2 separate regions of the Homo sapiens genome follow, and region 1 is linked to region 2. Evidence: fine-mapped expression QTL. A gene starts in region 2. The other region holds a variant in brackets. All regions are shown on one strand. Distances are from middle to middle. Region 1 holds the start of CROCC2 (ciliary rootlet coiled-coil, rootletin family member 2). Region 2 holds the start of UICLM (up-regulated in colorectal cancer liver metastasis).

Evidence for each region. PIP is the estimated chance that this variant, and not a neighbour inherited with it, causes the effect.
Region 1: its variant is the best candidate, but not a certain one, in a credible set for the expression of UICLM in stomach (GTEx, PIP 0.55).

Annotation. Positions count from the first base shown.
Region 1 is chr2:240,896,760-240,906,465 of GRCh38, reverse strand. It overlaps CROCC2 (ciliary rootlet coiled-coil, rootletin family member 2), which reads right to left and starts at 130. Exons shown (of 32, transcript NM_001351305.2): 1 at 1-130. It also overlaps a transcript of MAB21L4 not described here. RefSeq lists enhancers at 977-1,477, 3,289-3,788, 3,789-4,290, 9,139-9,706. The variant C/T (reference allele first, on the strand shown) is at 5,638.
Region 2 is chr2:240,963,552-240,973,257 of GRCh38, reverse strand. It overlaps UICLM (up-regulated in colorectal cancer liver metastasis), which reads left to right and starts at 5,807. Exons shown (of 9, transcript NR_033841.1): 1 at 5,807-5,931; 2 at 9,082-9,269; 3 at 9,512-9,706. It overlaps CROCC2 (ciliary rootlet coiled-coil, rootletin family member 2), which reads right to left. Exons shown (of 32, transcript NM_001351305.2): 21 at 9,485-9,702; 22 at 8,633-8,792; 23 at 7,740-7,877; 24 at 7,265-7,622; 25 at 6,849-7,033; 26 at 5,793-5,913; 27 at 4,996-5,129.

The DNA.
Region 1 (9,706 bases), 67 kb after region 2:
GCAGTTCTCCTCCAACTGGCCAGGGTCTTCCTTGGTCCACGGGCCCCACACCTGTGTGGCACCTGGCTCTGCAGTCTTGTGTCCCGAGCCTGGGCACCCAGTTGCTCTTGCCCTGTGGGTAAGACAGTATGGCCAGCTGAGCCCGTAGGCATTGCTGTGGCAACCGGGACGCTGAGAGCTGGGTTTCCCTGGAAACAGGAGTGCAGGACCCTGTTGCTGTGGGGACAAAGGAACGCTGTTGGCTGGAAGCAGTTTTGCCTGGAGACCTGGAGACGCCCTGGGTAAAACTGTCTACCTGAGCAACGGCACCTGGGAGGGGCTGGCCTTTCCCCCAGACACCCCCTCCCGCATTCGCTCCAGGGGGAGCCGTGTGCTTGCTGGACACACGGTGGGCAGAGGCAGCATGCAGAGCACTGGTCTTCCTTCATCTGGACTCATAAACTATGACTTTTGAAAAACATTTGTCAAAGAACGTAGTGGTCGTCGCAGGTGGTGGACTGAGACCTGGAGAGGGACGCTGCCTGCCTGAGGGGCAAAGGAATCTTGTCTTCCTGGCCTTGCACCTGTGAGTCCTTCTGGAGTCTGACTCCCGCTAGAGCCCTTCAGAGTCACCTGCCCATGGGTCCACCCTTGCCCTGGGAACCTGCACTGTTTCCCACCCTGTGGAATCGGAAAGGACCACCAGCCACCCTGTCCGAAGGGGAGAAGTCCCTGGTCAGCATGCGTGGTGGAGGGTCTGCAGAACTTGCCCACGGCTTCCCACCCCAGGGGCTGCCAGGGGCTGTCTGGATGCCAGGGCAGGGCAGCTTCCCATAGGTGGGGCAATGGGAGGGAAGCAGGGCCATGCCTGCCACCCCCAGGCCGGCTGTCCCTACAGACGCAGAGCTCTGTGGCTCGGAGTCTGGGCCTCCTGGGGCCTCAGATGAAGTCAGGTGCCTGGCAGGCAGCCATGCCAGCGTTTCCGCCCCATTCCACTCCCTCTGGGGCTCCTCATTCTGAGCTGGGACCTCCTTGAGCTGATGCTGGCAGGAGTCCCTCTGGGGAAGGGACAGCCGCAGAGGTGGGCCCTGCAGCAGGAGTGGCTGCCCTCCCATGAAAGGCTGCCCTGTTCAGGGGCCTCTGGGGATGGGTACATCTCCGAGTCTCTCAGAGACCCAGGTTCTTGGAGCCAGCCCAGGAGACCGGGAGGCAGCCTGCCCAGCAAGGCCACAGGGGCCCGGGCAGTGGAGGTGGATGCCAACTTGGGGGACCAGCATGTTTGTCCCTGGGGCTGCCGAGAGAGGGGCTGAGGGCCCAGGCCACCTCCTCAGAGGCGAAATTCAAGAAGCAGAGGCACCTGTACTCAAAAGGAGCCCTCCCAGAGAAACACCTGTGCTCTGTTCACCCCCACTCCTGAGGACAACCTCCAGGGTGGCCCTGCAGGGACAGGCCAGGCTCTCTGGCCAGACATGGCCCCATGGGCATCCGGGCTGGGCTTCACTGGACAGTCCCTGGGGTGCCAGGGGCCTGGTCAGTCCTTCCGAACCTCGTGCTTCTGGCCCAAGCATGACCTCTGGCTTCAGGTCCAGACTGAGGACACCCACTCCATGGGCTAGGCCCCTCCCTGAGCAGCCTCCAGATCCCCCAGGGACCCAAGACTGCCGGTCGCCCACCCTCAGAGTCCTGGGAGGCCCTGTGGCCATGGAGAGTCCTGCCCTCCATGCCTCAGCCTGAGTGGGGAGGGGCAGCGTTTCCTGCTGGGGCTCCGCTGAACTCCCCTGAGGTGGGTCAGGGCTTAGAGGGTGTGGCCCTGGCCTCTGGTGAGAGTTCCTGCTGGGGGCAGGGCGGGTGGAGTGAGGAAGGGGCATCCGTGTGGACCTGTGAACGGTGGGGAGTGGCTGGGAGGCTAGTGTGATCTCCCATGCGGGCCTCTTGGATAGGTGGAGATAAGACCTCATATGCCAGAAGCAAGTCCTGTGTCAGTCCTGACACAGATGCCCATGTTCAGGGGCGGCCCGGTGGCCTGAGTCGGGGTGTTGGAGAGACACCCTGACCTGAAGCCGTACATCCAGGCCAAAGGTGACGTGCACTGGGCCCAGCCAGGTGGAGACACCCCCTGTGGCCTCTGCAGGTGACGGCTCTCAGGAGGGCTGGTGGGCAGGGGCTCCCATCTGTGTTTAATTTTATTTTTATTTATTTATTTATTTTTGAGATGGAGTCTCGCTCTGTCTCCCAGACTGGAGTGCAGTGGCCCTATTTTGGCTCCCTGCAACCTCCCCCCACCAGGTTCAAGTGATTCTCCTGCTTCAGCCTCCAGAGTGGCTGGGATTAGAGGCACTCGCCACCATGCCCAGCTTATTTTTGTATTTTTAGTAGAGATGGGGTTTCACCATGTTGACCAGGCTGCTCTTGAACTCCTGACCTCAAGCAATCCTCCCGCCTTGGCCTCCCAAAGTGCTGGATTACAGGCGTGAGCCACTGCGCCCGGCCTGTCTGAGTTTTAGAAAGTTCCTTCTGGCTGTGGAGTTGCCCTGGACGAGACCAAACGTGAGGATGGGATTTTGTCGGTCCAGGTGGGCATCGCCTGGAGCCTCTGTGCCATCTGGGGTGGGCGTGGCCGCCTGCAGTTCAGCCTCCCCCGCCTGCGGCAGCTCCAAGTCCATGATTTTCCCAGATGTCCTCCCGTGCCCCTTTTCCTCAGTCACTGCAGGGTTTGCCCACGGAGGAGGGATTTCCTGGGAGAGTCCTGGTGAACCATGAAGGTTGGTCCCTCCTCTTGGTGGGGCCCTGACCCAAGGCAGGCCCTCCTTGCCGCCCACCTCCTCTTAGCCTTGGGGTCCTGGCTGCTCCACCGGACGCATCCTCGTTTCTTTTCCACTTCTCCCCCTTTGCTGCTTCTCCCCCTTAACCCTGCCCCCCTGTGTCTGTACAGGAAAGCCCACGCCTGCCGGCGGTGGCCCGGAGTCCCCCCAGGATGCCTTTCCAGGGCGCGAGGGCTGGCCCAGCCCCGTGCATGCCCCCCAAGGCCTCACTGCGGGGTGTCCATTATGGGGCTCCCAGACCAGGGCCATGGCTAGACTAGAAGAACCCACAGGGTAGGCCTTGGCCGGAGCCTGGCTGGGCCCCCCGGGGAACGCCCTGGGACAGTGGAGGATGGGATAGAGGGTCCTCCCTGAGTGCAGGCGTTCTGTGGGGTGGGCTCTCGGGAGGGCGGGGCTCGGGGGGCCCTGCCCAGTCCTGACCCACAGCCTGATGGGGGTTGAGCTCTTGTTCTCTGGACCTCACGCCTCCCTCCCTGGGACTGGGGAAAGTACTCGGCACCCATGGCCATTCTAGATGCGGTCCTCCTTGTCCTGCCCCACCTGCCTGGCTTTGGAGGCTGAGGAAGAACCCTCCTGGGCTCAGAGGAACACCTGTCTGTAGATACGCCATCACCGGTTTTGTCATTGTTCCCTTGAAACAGGAAACCTTGCTTATCCTTATCAAGGATAACGTTGTATCTCCTTATCAAGGAGATAAGGAGTTACAGCCTTATCTCCTTGGGGACAGTCCCTAATCCTGGCTGTGCTGGGCCCACATGGGGACACAGGAACCGATGATGAGCAGGCACAGACACTCTGGCCGCCAGGCACCCACACAGCCGGCCATGGGTGTCTTTTCCTGTCTAGCACCAGCAGGGGATGTGCCTCGGACAGAACCCAAAGAGGCTGTGACCCAGGTCAGCCCCGGGGAGCTATGGAGCCACTCCTCTTGAGCAGTCACTGGCTGTCCTCTCAGACAGTCTACTCTGCCAGGTGTGGACTTGGCTCTGAGGAGGAGACGCTGGCCCTGGGGGGTGCAGAGTCACTGAATGAGCTGAGACAGTGATGGAAGGCAGGAAAGATCCCAGTGTGATTACGGCAGGACGGGCAGCCCTGGAGGCTGTGAGGCTGGGACAGAGGGCGCCACATTCTGTCCACTGCCTACCCTCTCTGCAGAGCTGCCCTGCACATGAACTTTCTTCAGAGGGCATGGAAGTGCCACCCCATTCTGCACACAGCAGCCGAGTGGCACCGTCCCACCCCCATCTGTCGGGCGTGGACAGGAGGCCAGCTGAGGGCAGGGGTGGTGGCTGGTGAGGCAAGTGGTCTGATGCGGGAGAACAATGCATTTGGTGTGATTTTCAAGGTCTTTTCCACTCTCCTGAGAGGAGAGGCCAGCTGGATACATGTGCTGGGTTTTAGGGGGCATCCAGATGGTTGTGGGCGCAGGCAGGTCCTGAGAGGTTCTGTGGGGTGGGAGAGAAGACCTCGCTCTTCACCCACCCTGTGTTTATCCACGTGAGGGGTTGCCGGTGGATGCTGCCGTGGCAGGCCCTGGGGGACCTGGGTCCTGGGAGAGGCTGCAGGGCTGCCTGGGGACCCTGCTCTCTGGTGCTTTCTGTCAGCGTGGCAGAGGCTGAATACCACAGCACAGTGAAGAAAGGTGCCTGGGGAGGGACCTCCTGCCTGGGGACCAGAGGAGGCTTGGGGCTACTGGCCTGCCCAGGGATCCAAAGGTAAGAGCCCAAGCCATACAGAGCTTAGAAGAAAATGTAGGCAAAAGCTTCATGACACAGGATTTGGCAGTGATTTCTTGGATATGACATCAAATGCACAGACAATGAAAGAAAAAAATAGATAAATTGAACTGCATCAGAATTGAAAACTTGTGCATCAAAGGATGCTATGAAGAAAGTGAAAACCCACAGAATGGGAGAAAATATTTACCAATTTTATATCTGATAGGGGATTAGTATTGAGAATTTATAAAGAATTCTGGCCAAGCGTGGTGGCTCACACCTGTAATCCCAGCATGTTGGGAGGCCAAGGCAGGTAGGTCACCTGAGGTCAGGAGTTCGAGACCAGCCTGGCCAAACCCCGTCTCTACTAAAAAAATACAAAAAAATTAGCTGGACCTGGTGGCGTGCGCCTGTCATCCCAGCTACGCAGGAGGCTGAGGCATGAGAATTGCTTGAACCTGGGAGGCAGAGGTTACAGTGAGCCGAGATGGCGCCACTGCACTCCAGCCTGAGTGAGAGGGAGACTCTGTCTAAAAAAAAAAAAAAAAAAAAAAAAAAAGAATTCCTACAACCCAACAACAAGAAAACAAACAACACAATTAAAAATGAGCGAAAGACCTGAACAGACGTTTCTCCAAAGAAGATACACACATGGCCAACAGGCATGTGAAAGACACTCAGAGTCGCCTCATCCGAGAAATGCAAATCAAAAACCACAGCACGTCAGCACTTCACAACCCCTGGGATGGCTCTTACCCAGAACGCAGAGGATGAGTGCTGGGGAGGACGTGGAGAAGCCAGGGCTCTCGTGCACTGCAGTGGCGATGGTGTGACAAATCCTCAGAAAATTAAACAGAGTTCCCATATGATCCAGGAACCCACTTCTGGGCATATACCCCAAGGAACTGAAAGCAGAGACTCAAAGAGATATTCATACCCCTGTGTTTATAGCAGCATTTGCACTGCAGCCGATGGTGGAAGGAGCCCAGGTGTCTGTTCACAGATGATGTGGTCCGTCCCCACCGTGGAACATTACTCCGCCTTTAAAAGGAAGGAAATTCTCACACATGCCACAATCTGGAAGAACCCTGAGGATATAACGCCAGGTGAAATAAGCG[C/T]GTGCTAAGGCCGACGCTTACCTGAGGTCCCAGGAGCGCTCCAAGCCCTAGAAACGGAAGGTAGTATGGTGAGAGCCAGGGGCTGGGGGAGGGGCAGGAGTCAGTGTGGAGCAGGCACAGAGTCTCAGCCTGGAAGATGAGACGAGCTCTGGAGACTGACGGTGACAATGGCCGCGCCGCAACACGAATGTTCTTCATGGCGCTGAGCCACACACTTAAAGGTGGTCAAGATGGTAAAAGTCATGTTTATTTACCAAAATGTAAAAAACTAAAACGCCAACCACCAAGCAAAACAAAACCCACTGTGGCCAGCACCTGGGGAGACCTAGAGGGTTCCCCCACCCAGCTGCACGTTCCAGGGGAGCTGCAGCCTGTGGTCTGGCCCTGAGCTGGCGACTGGAGCCCCGGACAGACGGAGCTGGTGTCCCCGTGTGCCCAGGTGAGCGGTCTCCATGCCACCACTGAGAGAACACCCCCTTCCCCTCTCTCACACCGCCCTCCACCCACCCCTGTGCCGTCGAGCTTCCTTCTCCCCGGGACACCTGCCCAACCCCTGTCCTGGGCTGAGCCTGCCTCAGAAAAATGAGTCTGCTCCAATGTCTGCTCCCCACTGGATTTTCCAGGTGAGGGATCAGCCCGCCCTCAGCCCCATGCGGCTCAGCTCCTCAGGGTGGTCCAAAGTAGCCCCCAGCCCACGACCCCACCCACCCCGCCACACACCTGACTGTTCCCCAGCCATCTCCGTCCACCTGGGGCGTAACTGCCCATCACCTCCTTCCTCCCCCAGCCCCTGCTTCTTTGCTTTGCTCCTCCCAGCGGGGGTTCACCCCTACCGCTCAGTGCTGCTCCGAGGGGGGCTGCCAGGCTTAGCAGTGGAAATACAGGGATCCCTGTTCTATTCCAACTCCAGATCAACAACAATAAATGTTTGTGTGCCATGCAAATTAGATTTGAACTTCAGATTAATCCTAACAGCTGGGCGTCCTGCATTTTATTCGCCACCCTGATGCAGAGTTAGGCCATGAAGGGGAGGCCGCAGGGGCCGGGCATGTGCTCTGGGCGTCAGGACGCGGGTTTGTCCCTCGTGGTGAGCATTGCAGCTTTATCCTGAAGTCCAGACTGCTCATGTCAGCACGGAAGCTGCTTCCCCGCAGAGGCATCTGCGTAAAGGGCGTCTGGGCGCTGGGCGGCTGGATTCTGTCTGAGAGTCTGTCTCCTGTGGACTCCTCACTGTCCGTTGAGGACCTGGAGCCCAGGCGGGGCAGCGACTTGCTCAGGCCACACCATGGTGCCAAGCTCGTCTGCTCAAGTCTGACTTTTCTGCATCCGCACCTAAGCCTGAGCAGGCCTGGCAGGTACTCTGGGCACCTTGGCTGAATCGGACCACAGTGTCCTGGAGAGAAGGGCCCGATGCAGAAGAAGGGTCTCCTTCCCGGAGTACTGCAGGCATTGGTGGCTGGTGTAGACCTCGGCTGGAGACTCCTGTCTTGGTTGCTTTTGCATGCCTGAGGCTGCACAGAGCTGTGCCCACTGTTCCCAAACAGGTGGCTGGGCTAGGGGAGGGGCAGCAAGCACAGGGTCCCTGCAGGCAGCGCCCTGGCAGGGCTCCTGGCACGCGGTGGTATGGGGGCTGCTGACCGTAGCTGGCTGAGGAACAGCCACCTCCTAGTCCCCAGAACCTGTGAACAGGACCTTATAAAGCACAGGAGAGAGTGTGGCCTTACACGGTAACAGACTGAACCGTGGGTGAATTGAGATCTTACGTGGTAACAGACTGAACTGTGGGAGGCCTATGGGATGAGATCATCTGGGACGGCCTGGTGGCCCTAAATGGTCTCCCCAGTGTCCTTGTAAGAGAAGCAGAAAGAGATAGCACAGCTGCCCACAGGAGAGGGCCACGTGAGGACGGAGATGGAGAGACGTGGCCAAGGAACGCGGCTGCACTGGAGCTGGGAGAGGTGGGAGCTGCGCTTCCCTGGAGCCTCCGGAGGGAGCCCAGCCACACAACACCATGCTCTTGGACGTCTGCCTCCAGAGCTGTGAGAATTCACTTCTGTCATTTTACCTCCGCCGTGGTCTGTCGCACCCCTGGAAACATGCCCCTGCTGTGGGCTGCAGCTGCGTGGAGCCCCCACGGCTCAGGGTGTGCCCCTGTTGCTTCCCTAGGTTCAGCCCTGGGACTCTGTTCAGGCCGGAATGTCTGCTTCCCACCCCGCCTTTCCCAGCACATCCGGGACTTCCTGAAATACAGGATCCGTGCTCTGGCCCTGAGCTCTACTGAGAGACTGAATCAACACCCATCTGAGCATTTGCGGTTGCCACAGGTGCCAAGGAACCCCTTCTTGAGTTGCCAAGGCCCCAGGACACGTCTGGTTTCTCTGACCCTCCCCACCCTCACCACGCTACCCTCCTGGGGTCAGAGTTGGAGTCCTGGGTGCACTGTGGCTAGTGGCTGCCTGAAGGCCTCTGGAGCACTTGGCCCCTTTGTGGTCAAAGCTGCCCAGCCGTCCAGGGCGGGTGCCCGCATCCCCTCCGTCAGCAGCGGCTCTCCTCTCTCTCCCACAGGTCCAGCTTCCCGGGGACCTTTGCTTGTCCACAGTTCCCTGGTGTACTCCACATGCTCCTGTGTGCCTGGCATCGTGCCTGGCTCTAGGGTACACTGAGGAGTGTGACACCGTTCCAGCCATAGGGAGCTCACCATGTCATTCACCACCTGCCAGAAGGGCCAAGGGGCAAGGATGGGGCCTGGCCCATCAGAGGCTCTGACCTCAGCTGGGGCACAGGTGGAGAGAGTGGGGTCCCTTGGGGCAACCAGCTGGATTCAGCTCAGGAACTGGTGGGAGCCAGGAGGCCAGAGCCAGCGAAGGACAGGACAGGGTGTCAGCCAGGTGGAATCCCCTGCTGAAGAGAGGAAAGGGGGGACATGGTCTTGTGCTCTTGGTGTTGACAGCAGTGGAGAGGGGGCTTTAGGGGCAAAGGAGGATGCAAAGCCTGGGGGCCGCTCCCGAGGGAGAAGGGCCCTGCTCTGTGGCCACTGGAGGGAGCAGCTTGGGGGCTGAGAAGCCGAGCCCCTCCCATGGCTCAGAGCCCCTGGGCACTTTGGGTAGATTGGGGTGTGGTTGGGGGTCTCCTGGGCGAATTCAGAACACCGGGAGGTTCCTGGGAAGGAGGAGCTGGGACACTGAAGGTGTCATCAAATCACAGATGTTGAAGCCAAGGCCCAGAACAGGCAGATGAGCTCCCTGGGCCACTGCGGCCGAGGGTGAGGGGTAGGACCCCAGCTGCCCTGCAGCAGCGTCCACCTCCCCCAGGCCAGAGTCCTGTGGAGATGGAGGAGTGTGGCACACGGCTGTGTGTGGGGACCTAGGCAGGCCGTGGGTGAGGGCCCAGGACAAATGGGGCCTTGAACCTGAATGGCTGCCCTCGGGGAGGGGGACACGTGCTCTAAGCAACTCCAGGGAACAGGAGTGGGCCAGCTTGGAGGAGGGATATCTGTCTCTCGCTTGACCGTGGGCTACCCTGTGAGGTGGTGAGCTCCCTGTCCTGGGAGGCATGGAAGCAGAGACCCGCTCACTGGGCTGCAGCCCCTCATAGGGGCTTCCAAGCACCAGGAAGTGAGTGGCTGTTGCCCCCTGCCCCACCCCTCCTGGGATCCTGGTTCTGCCCACAGCTCTGACTCAGATGCAGCTCCCCGGGGGGTGAGAGGCCCACGTGCGGTGGCTACAGGGGCAGCATCTCCACGACGCCCCTGTGGGGCCATCTCCATGTTCACTGTTTGCAGACACCCCTGTGGCTGAGCACCCGATGCACTCGGCCAGCTGGCAGGGCCAAGGGTCGATGGGGCGGCTCCCTGCTGGTTGGGACTTGCACGGCCCTGAGCAGGGGAGGGGGGCGGGGCTGGCAGGGTACCTGGTGCAGGTGCTGGAGGGGGATGGTGGGGCGAGTTTCTCCACCTGGGTGAGGTGGAGCCACGGAGACTGCTTTTCTCCAGAACCAGACGAGCTCCAGCTCCCAGGCTAGGTGGGTGCCAGCTCCTCTCAGGTTGGAGGCTGGGCAGGGTGGGGTGGGG
Region 2 (9,706 bases):
AAACGGGGAGGGATTTGCTCTCAAACAAGAATCTTACTGTTTGCATAGCACAGCCTACCATTTAATTAGAAAAATATGTTTTTAATTAACTTTCTCTTGACAAACACATCGGCTTATGTGAAACAGGGGAAAAACCAACCCATGAAAGCAAAAGAAGTTGTGTCAAAGGCAGAGCTGGCTCTAGACTGTGCCGGGAGCTTGGCAGAGCCAGGAGAGGCACCAGGCCTGCCCTACTGGACCCTAGCACCCCCCTGCTCAGCAAGGGGCATGGGGCAGCAGGGAGCATGGCTATGTTCCCAGCCCCCTGGCTGGCTAGAAAATTTCAACCCTGAGCTCTCTGCCTGGGTTTGCTGTGTGTCAAAAGCGGGGGCCTCTGGTGACTTAGGTGTGTCTGAATCCAGAAACCTATCACAATGACTCATAGATTACAAAAAGTTGGGAAAAACTTTCCTCAGAGCTGGAGACCAGGGACTTGGAGGACTCCCGAGGGCAGATGAGACCAACTTGGCCTAAAAATGGGTGAAATAATAATTGCCAGAATTGTAAGAAAACGTTGACACCATAATGATAGATTTTAGCACATTTCACTAAAAAAGTTGAGCAAATTCTAGACCAAGCAGAAAAATGCATACAGACAAAGGTCTGGTCAATGTCAGAGACGTCCTCTGCACTCATTGTGGAGACCCAAAGTTGGACCCCCATGTCCCCATACCCTGACTCAGAAGGGCGAGGGCTGGAGGGAGCTGCAGGGGTGTTGGGGAGGCAACTCTGTACTACCAGGACCTCAGGGAAGAGGGTTGCTGTGGCTGGGGGACCCGGGGAGCCCTCCATCCCTGTGAGGCAAGCAGCTGGGGAGGTGGAGGACCGCACCGTGACCGTGCACCGGAGAGCGCCGCTCCCACCCCGCCCACTTCAGGAACAGAACAGCTCCGGGAGGGCCAGAACTCCACTGCTGGCTCCCCATATTCCCCATGGCTCCCTGTGGCTGCAGGATCTTGGAACCCTTCTCTCTGCCTTTCTTTTGAGCCTGAAATATTTGGATGGGGACACATAAAGTCCCTGATGGGTTCCTCTCCACTCCCAACTTCAAACGAGGCCAGAACTCCTTTCTTTAAAGACACGCAAAGGAAAAAAATCACAAAACTAGTATCCACTGGGGTTTGAGAAAATAAAGTCGATCTGAGGAATCAGATCTGAGAGTCTCTAATTAAACAGAGAAGTGAGCTACTGACACACACCAGAAGATGGTAACTAGTGTTCTCAAGGTGAGGACAGGGCAGGGGTCTTGAGGTGGACAATCCAAAATGAAAACTCAGGCCGAACGAGGCCACCGTGGGGACAGGAGCAGCAGACGAGATGCGGCAGATCCTGAGATTAGCTGAGTAGGAGTAAGACCTGAAATTCTCCTGGGACCTTGGGGAAAACCGAGATGACAAGGAGAAATTCAAGATTGAAGCCAGGAGGACAGGTCCAGGGGATCAGTATTGGGATGCTGAGAATTCCAGGACAAAAGAACAGAGAAGAGGGAGAAGGAGAAGAGATGTTTTTTTTACAGTGGAAGGAACCTCTGTAAACAGAAGGTAGATTTGATTCTGCAAGTAGGGAGGGTTTGCCGGGGTAGGTAAAAATAATGAAAGGGGCCGACACGCCCACATTTTGGTGACATTTTTGAATTTCAAAAACAAGGAGGCCTCTGGCTGCCACTCTGGAAAGAGCACTGACAAGAAAAACACAAAGAACCCAGGGAATCCGCACATTTCTTGAACCCATCTGAACTCAAGGTCAGAGGCAAACAAGGAGCCTGGAATCGAATGAAAGCCAGGCCCCTCCAGGAGAGATGCCATGAGCGGCCCCACCCATCAAACCAGCGGCATGGAGTTCACCAAAGCTGGTAACATGTTGCTCGGACCCACGTGGCAGGCAGAGCCCTCAGAGGGCCCTGTGAGCTCTGGCCCTGACGTTATCCTGTGATTACGTTGGATTCATGGCCAGGGGACTTTGTGGATGTGAAGAGTTGACTCTGAGTTAAGCAAAGGGTGACCACCCAGGTGGGTCTCACCCACTCACGCACACCCTCGGGTGTCGGCAGAAGGGAGCCATGAGGTGTGAGGCACGTGGAGATGGGGGGCGTGGGGTGCAGGTGCTGCTGCCACACTGTGGCACAGCCAAGGAAGCCCCTGGCTAGGAGTGGGGAGCCCTTGGCCGACCGCACAGAAATGAGGCTCAGCCCGACAACGCAAAGAGCTGGACTCGCCACGCTGGGATGAGCCCGGATGCCCCCAGAAGCACCTGGATGAACCCAGAGGAGGACTCTTCCCCGTGGCCTCGGGTGGCCCAGCCTACCCCATGACTGTGAGACCCAGAGGGGAGACGCCAGTCACACCATGCCAGGCTTCTCACCTATGGGACTGGGGGCTCAAAAGTGGGGTTAAGTCATCAGTAATTTGTTGCAAAAAGTAGTGCACCAGGTGTGGGCTGCTGTGGGTAGAGAGCCCTGGGGTCCACAGACACCAAGAGAAGTTCAACCTACAGGCAGGAGAGCCCAGAGCCCCCCTGGGGAGCAGGTTTGGAAGAGGGGATTGTCCAGAGCAGGAAATTCTAAGGAGCAAAAGTCTTAGCTCCTAGGGCGCAGGTGGAAGCAGTGCAGCTGGGAAGGGAAGGGACAAGACCCTCGGCCCCTGGAGGGGGCAGGGCGCTGTCCTGGCCCAGCCATAAGATGCCCTGGATGCAAATGCTAAGGGAAAAGAGGATGAATAAATCATCCCTGCCATGCAAGACAGGACAGGCAGGAAAGACACACGGAAAGGAGAAAGTGTCCTATGAACAACCTAAGGAAAAACAGAGCATGGGTTACCACAAAACTTCTACATGGGACAAATTCCCCCAGAAGAGGCAGAGACTCTAAGGTGAGATTGAAACCAGAGCCAGGCTGATGAAATGAAGGCTGAAACCACAAACACCAAAAAAGCAGAGGCCAAGAGGAAGACAAACAGCAGTCACAGGACATGCAGGCCACTCAGGAAAAGTTAACCGAGAAACTTCAAATTCGAAGAGTCAAGAAATCTAGAAGTCAAATACCCTTGGAAATAAAAGGAGACATTGACAAAAAGAATTGTAGTGGGAAAATTCAACACATCATCCTTAGTTTTGATAAATTCAGGAACTGGATCAAATGTGGCCTATTTGAATAATGCATTTGTAAAGGTTGATTTAAAAGGTGTATTTCAGAACTGGGCACGGTGGCTCACACCTGTAATCCCAGCACTTTGGGAAGCTGAGGCAGGCAGATCATTTAAGGTCAGGAGTTCAAGACCAGTCTGGCCAACATGGTGTGAAACCTGTCTCTACTAAAAATACAAAAAAATTAGGTGTATTGGCGGGTGCCTGTAATCCCGACTACTTGGGAAGCTGAGGCAGGAGAATCACTTGAACCTGGGAGGCGGAGGTTGCTGTGAGCCAAGATGGTGCCACTGCACTCCAGCCTGGGTGACAGAATGAGACTCCATCTCAAAAAATAAAATAAAATAGAAGGTCTCTTTCAAAATGTGTAACCTGTGAGCAGAGCACGTTATTTCTGCATGCATGTGGGAGACATACATGTGACTATACACATAAAATGAAACTTGGCCCAACTCAGCCCGCTCCAGGTCCCCTGACTTCTCAGGTGCCCCCATCTCCTGGGCATCTCACAAGTCCTGACCCCATCCCTGGCCAGGCCGCCTGGGTCTTTCCACAGACGTCTCTAGTCTTACTGCCCCAGCAGCTGTCACCAGAAGGGTCTTTCCAAAACAGAAATTTCCAAACTGCTGGCTAATGAGGACCTTGCTCTCTCTGCAGCCTGGCCTCTGCTCTCTGCCCCCTCCCCTCTCCCCTGCAGAAGCCACCTCCTCAGAGGCTCAGGGCCTACTGGGAACTCAGAGCCTGCCTGCTAGTCTGAGTGCTGACAGCCCTCTGGTGGCCTCTGAGGGCCACCAGGCTCCGGGGCTGAGCCCCGCGTGGAACAGCACAGGCCTGGCCGGCTGCCCTTGGGGCCTTTCTGCCAACCTGCAAGGCCGTCCCTCCTGATGGCTCACCCAGGCCTCCCTCATTGGAGGGACACTTGGAGAGGAGTGGCTCCCCGGTCTCTGTGCCCTGTCTCCTCTGCACTGTGCTGGCCCCCTCTTTCCAGAATGGGTTGAGGGACGCCTGGGGGCAGTTGCCCTGGGGAGCCTCAGCCAGGCACGCTGTTCTCTGGCCCCTGGGGCCTGCAAGGGAGCTCTCTGGAGCGGAACAGTTGTCCCCTGGCCCAGTCCTGACAAGAGGATCTCAGGACACCCCGGGGGCTGCTTGGACCTGTGGGGCTGGGCTGGCTGGGCCTGGGGCTCCCCACCAGCACTGAGGACCAAGGCCTGGGCCAGGCCTCCATCCACCACTGCCTGGCCGTTCCATTTCCAGGCCCAGGCTCCTCACCTGAAAACCTCAGACCCAGCGGGCACCTCCCCAGCACAAAGCCTGGCATGTAGGGACACTGACTTCAGCCCTTCCTGAGAGGCCCCTTCTGTGTCTGAGCCACATGGAATGAAAAGTGGTCTTGGAGCAGGACAGTGTGACCCTATAAAGAGCCCCAAGGCTGGGCCAGGGCCGCCCCATGCCTGCCGCTGTGGCCTCAGCAAGAAGAAAGGGCCTAGACTTGGGGCTCTGCCCCCCACTCGCTGTGCCCCCAGGGCCAAGTCCTCAGTTTCCCCAACCTGTAAAACAAGGGCTAGAACCACCGTAAGGACAGCTCTGCTAAGGACGACCCCAGTCCCGATGACCCCAAAGCCGCCTGCCACAGCCCAGCCTGCACCTCTGCCCCAGGGCCCCACCGGGCTGGCTCCAGCCCCGAACACCCACAGAAGCCCTTGCAGACCCCTCTCTCCCACCTCCCGGCCCTGTGGCCTCCCTGCAGGGTGTGAGGGTGACCGAGAGGCCTTGTTCTTGTGCCCCACCTGGGACCCACCCTGCCGCCTGCCCCACCTGCAGCCGCCGCTTCTCCTGGCCTGCCGCACGCACGCTCGCCAGGTGCTCCAACTCCAGCCTGCGGAGCGCCTCCTTCTGCAGGGCACGTGCTGCCCGGGCGCTGCTCAGCGCGCCCTCCACCCGGCGCTGGCCTGTGGGGCAAGCAGGGTGGCTTGAGGGGCCCCCATGCCCCTCCCAGGTCACAGGCAGGCAATGCAGGGCTCTGTGGACTTGAGTGACTGGCTCCCACGTGGAGGTGGGGGTCCATCCTTGCAGCTCAAGGGTCCTGGGGCTGCCCCAGGGTCCCGGCTTCCCACCCATCCTTCCCTCCTGCCTCTTTCCTTTAATTGAGGGGCAATAAGCAGAGAAACTCGTGAGTGTGAGGCAGTGGGGGGCAGAAGGAAGGGGCCTCTCTGAGGGGGTGACGAGGGGCAGGGCCTGCCCGGGGAGAGCCGTGTGGCTGTCTGGGGGAGAGGGTGCCAGGCAGAGGGCACAGCCAGGGCAAAGGCCCCCAGTGGGAACTGCAGGAGGCCAGGGTGGGGCAGGGGGGCAGAGGATGCTGGGGGCCGGATCGGGAGGGCCCTGATGGGCCTGTGGACGTCACTCCTCTGTGCTGGGGAAGTCGCTGCTGAGAACTCCGATGCCAAGCGCTGACCCAGCCTCGCCAGGCCTGGTGGTTTGGGTGTTGCCCCCAGGCTCCCTTCCCACCGAGCTGCCCCAGGGACTGAAAGCTTATAGCCGGCAGCAGTGGGGACATGGTGGTGCCACTCTCACAGCCACTCCCAGGGTGGGCGGGGCAGGGCAAGGGAGGTCACCTTCTTCCGCCTCAGCCAGGGCTTTCTGCAGCTGCCCCACGCGGCTCTGGGCCCGGGCACACCTGCACTCTGCCTCGCTCAGCCGGCTGCTCAGGGTCGCCATCTGGATGCGGGAGTCATCCTGGGCAGAAGGACTGAGGTCAGCGGGGGCAGTCCAATGGGCGGGTGGAGGGCCAAGGTGTCTGCTAGAGGGTCGGGGCCAGCTGGGGCCGCTCACGGTCTGGCCTGCAGGTGTGCAGGGCAGGGCAGTGGGTGGTGTGGGCCGTGGGCTCGGGGAAGGTGCGGGGAAGGTGATCACACTGGGAAGCTGCGCTGACCTGCAGGCCTGGGGAGGTGGAGGCGCCCAGTGAGACTCGGCCTAAAGGGTCCAGGTTTCAAGCACAGGTGTGGTGTGGGAGAGCTGGCAGGTGGCGGCCCACAGCCTGTGGTCAGGGGGACCGGTAGGGGCTGCCCCTGGCGGGACTTGGGGCTGAGTGCAGACGGGACCCTGCCCCCTGGGGCTGGCAGCGGTGGGAGGGTGGGCCCGAAGGGAAGGAGTGTGCACAGAGGACCCTGGCCAGGGCTCAGGGCCTGCCTCTGTCTTTCCCACAGTCCTGCCCACTGGAGTCATCCAGCGAGGTGGGAGGGGGCCGCTCACGGGTGGTTCTGTGGGAGCCCTGAAGCCAGGAGCAGCCACTGGGGAGCTTGGCCCCACCGGAGGGGTCTTTGGGAGCATTGAGGGGAGCTTGCTGGCTCTGTCCTGCAGTTGCCCAGCCCCGGCAGCTCTTCAGGGGTGGCATGAGTTGCAGAATGCCCTACCCTGGGCCCTGGTGGGTGTCACAGCAGGGCCTGGCTCCAGGGGCTTTTCAGCCTGGTATAAGGAAGGGGGCGGCCTCCAGCCACCCAAGGCACTTGGGCTTGGGGGCCATGGTGGTGCTGGTGTTTATCACAACAAACAGGACGGCCTGGACACTGACCCTCAGACCCAGGGACGCGCGGATGGATGGACAGCAGGTGTTCTTCCCAGAGACCCCCGGGGGGTGCCGCCGTGGGCGGGAGGACCCCAGCCCCCATTACCCGCTCCCGCTGGGCTTCCCGGAGCTTCTGCACAAAGTCCCGCAGGATGTCCTGCACGGTGGCCACATCCATGAGCTCTGAGCTGCGGCCTCCGGGTGTGGGCGAGGGCCATCGGAGGGGCGAGTGGGGCCTGGCTGGGGGGCTGGTACCCTGTTGCCCAGGGAGAGCCTGGGAGCTGTCGGAGCCTGCGGGAGGTGACAGCGGAGGGGTCGTGGACAGGAACACAGTGACAGATACACGCCCTTCCCCTTTCCTCTCTGCTGCCCCAGCCATGGGAGGTTGGGGAGACGGCCACAGGTTCCTACAATTGCCTGTCCGAGTCCCTCACTGTGTGAGTTGTGAGGCCTGAAAGAGAGGTGCCAGGCCAGGGACTGAGCTGGGAGAGGGGCCCGCCTGCCTCCACTGAGGACTCTGACCTTTGGTGGGGGAACCAGGCTGCTCCGGGGAGGCCCACGGGCTCTGTCTCTGGAGCCCCAGGCCACGGCGGAGCGTGGAGCACAGCCGGCCCAGCTGGGCCTCCGCATCCTGCCTTGCACCCTCAGCCTGGGCCAGCTCCTGCTCCAGGCTGTGGATTCGGTGACAGGCCTGGTCCAGGCGAGCCTGGAGAGCATCAGCCACACCACTGGCTTCCTGCAGCTTCCTGGTGACACTGTGCAGCTCTGCTCGGAGGGTCTGCTCAGCCCCCCGGCTCTCACGGAGGTGCTCCTGGAGCCGCTGTCCATGGGCCTCCCCTGCGGCCTCCACCTCTGCCAACTTCCTCTGCAATCCCAGGACCTGTAGGAGGGATGTTGGGGTGCGCCCGTGGGAGACAGTGAGGAAGTGGGGTGGGCCTCCTCCCTCTGCTCCCCGACGCCCAGCTCCTTCCCTTCTGACCACAGGCAGCCCTCCCACCTCCTTCCGGGCACCCTCGTGCTTGGCCTCTGCCTTGGCTGCCTGCCTCCGCAGCTCCAGCACCTCCTGCGAGCACTGCGCCTGCAGCTCATGGGCCTCTCCACTCCTCCTCTGGTTCTCGGCCTTCAGTGTCCTCACCTGGGAGCGTGGGGCCGCACGGACAGGGTCACTGGTCTCTGTGCTGGAACCCAGGCAGCCTCCCTGCCTCCTGCCTCCGCTCACACGTCCCTTGAGGGCAGCTGGCCACACTTAGGGAGGCTTGGGCTAAGGTGCCCCAAAGGACCTTGCCCTGGGAGTTGTCACCCTCAGCCACTCTGTAGACACCTACCTGGGACCTCCTCGGAACCTCCTTGGAGGACCTGGGACAAGGAGGAGGCTCAGGTGGGGCGGGGTGGGCACTGATTAGGGAGTGTGGGCAGTGGCTGGGGTGCATTGGACCCAACTGCCCCGAGGCCGCCATTACAGGAGGGAGCCAGGCCTTGGGGGGACCCGGCTTGCCAGCACCCTGCCCTGCAGAGGCCAGGCCTCCCCTCTAGCCTGCCTGAGTTCCCGAGCGCCACCGGAAGGTGTTGCATGTAGGATACTTCCGTGTGCTGCTGTGCATGCCGGAAGGTGTTGCATGTAGGATACTTCCGTGTGCTGCTGGGCATGGTTCCCTTCCTCCTCGCTAAAGCATTCCTGGTTTTGCCCTCTCCAGTCTTGTCATCTGTGCCCCATGGGGACAGACCCAACCAGGGACCCTGTGAGCCTGAGCAGGGCGTGGCCCAAAGTCTGGGGACAGAGTGGTTCAAAGGCGGCAGCAAGGCCAGGGCTGGGGGCTCCCCTGGGAGGAGCCGGGACCCACCAGGCGGGAGGGTGCCTGGTTGGATGTTGACCCCTCCCTGCCGCCCTACCTGTCTGTGGAGTTCCCGGAGCTCCTGACGGGCGTCCCCCCCTGCCTGCTCCAGCTCCCACAGGTGGGCCCGCAGTGCACTGGCCTCCTGCTGCAACGCCGCCTGGGCCTCCTCCAGGATGAGCAGCTTCTGCTCCTTCTCCTCCTTGGACCGCTTAAAACTGACGAGGGTGCCACAGGCTGGGGCCCCCGCACCTCCTGGTGGGGCCAGCACAGCTGCCCAGCAGGTCTCTGCCTCCCCTAGTGAGGCACTGGCCCCAGTCTTGACTCTGCACAGTGTCCTCAAACTCAGCCTCTGCAGGGTTCCCTGTCACCTTACAGACATATGTCCACCCAGGTCCCGGTGCCGGCCGCATGGCCCCTGTCCACTATCCACCTCTTCAGCCCCTCCTCACCTCATCCCTCCCTGTCTCCCCCTCTCTGTCACACTCCCGGACGCTCAACATCCAGCCTAGCCTGGTACCTCTGCCACCTGCTGTGAGGGCTGTGCCATCCTGCCCAGCTGCCCCACAGGGGCCTTTCTAGAGCCCCAGCCAGGCCGTTGGCCTCCCTCTGCTCCCCAGCTCTGCACCACCTCCTGGAGGCCACCTGTGACCTATCTTGCCTGCTGGATGGGAACTCCCTGTGGGCAGGGACAGGTGTGTCCATGTCCTCAGCCATCCCTCGCACTGGCCAGCATTGCAGACCTCTTGGACTGGGCAGCGGGAGGCCTGCTTGGCATGTCTACCCCACCATCAGTGGGGCCCAAGTCAACAGGACGCCCCTGCCTAGCCCCCTTGCCCCATCCTCCCTACGGCCTGGGTGGGCAGCAGGCTGCAGGGCACCCCCAGCTGCTCCTGGGTGGCCGCCATACCTGGCCTTCTCCTGTTCGGCCCTGCAGATGGTGGCCCGCAGCTCGCTGTTGAAAAGCAACAGTACGTCCTTCTCGCGGGCCTCGTCACTCAGCGCCCGGCGGGCCTCCTGGGCCTCCCTGTGCAGCCCCTCCCGGCTCTCCTCGACGCCCTGCAGCTCCTGGCGCAGTGCGGCCAGTCCCTCCTGGGCCACGGTCAGCTGTGCCCGCAGCCTCTCAGCCTGG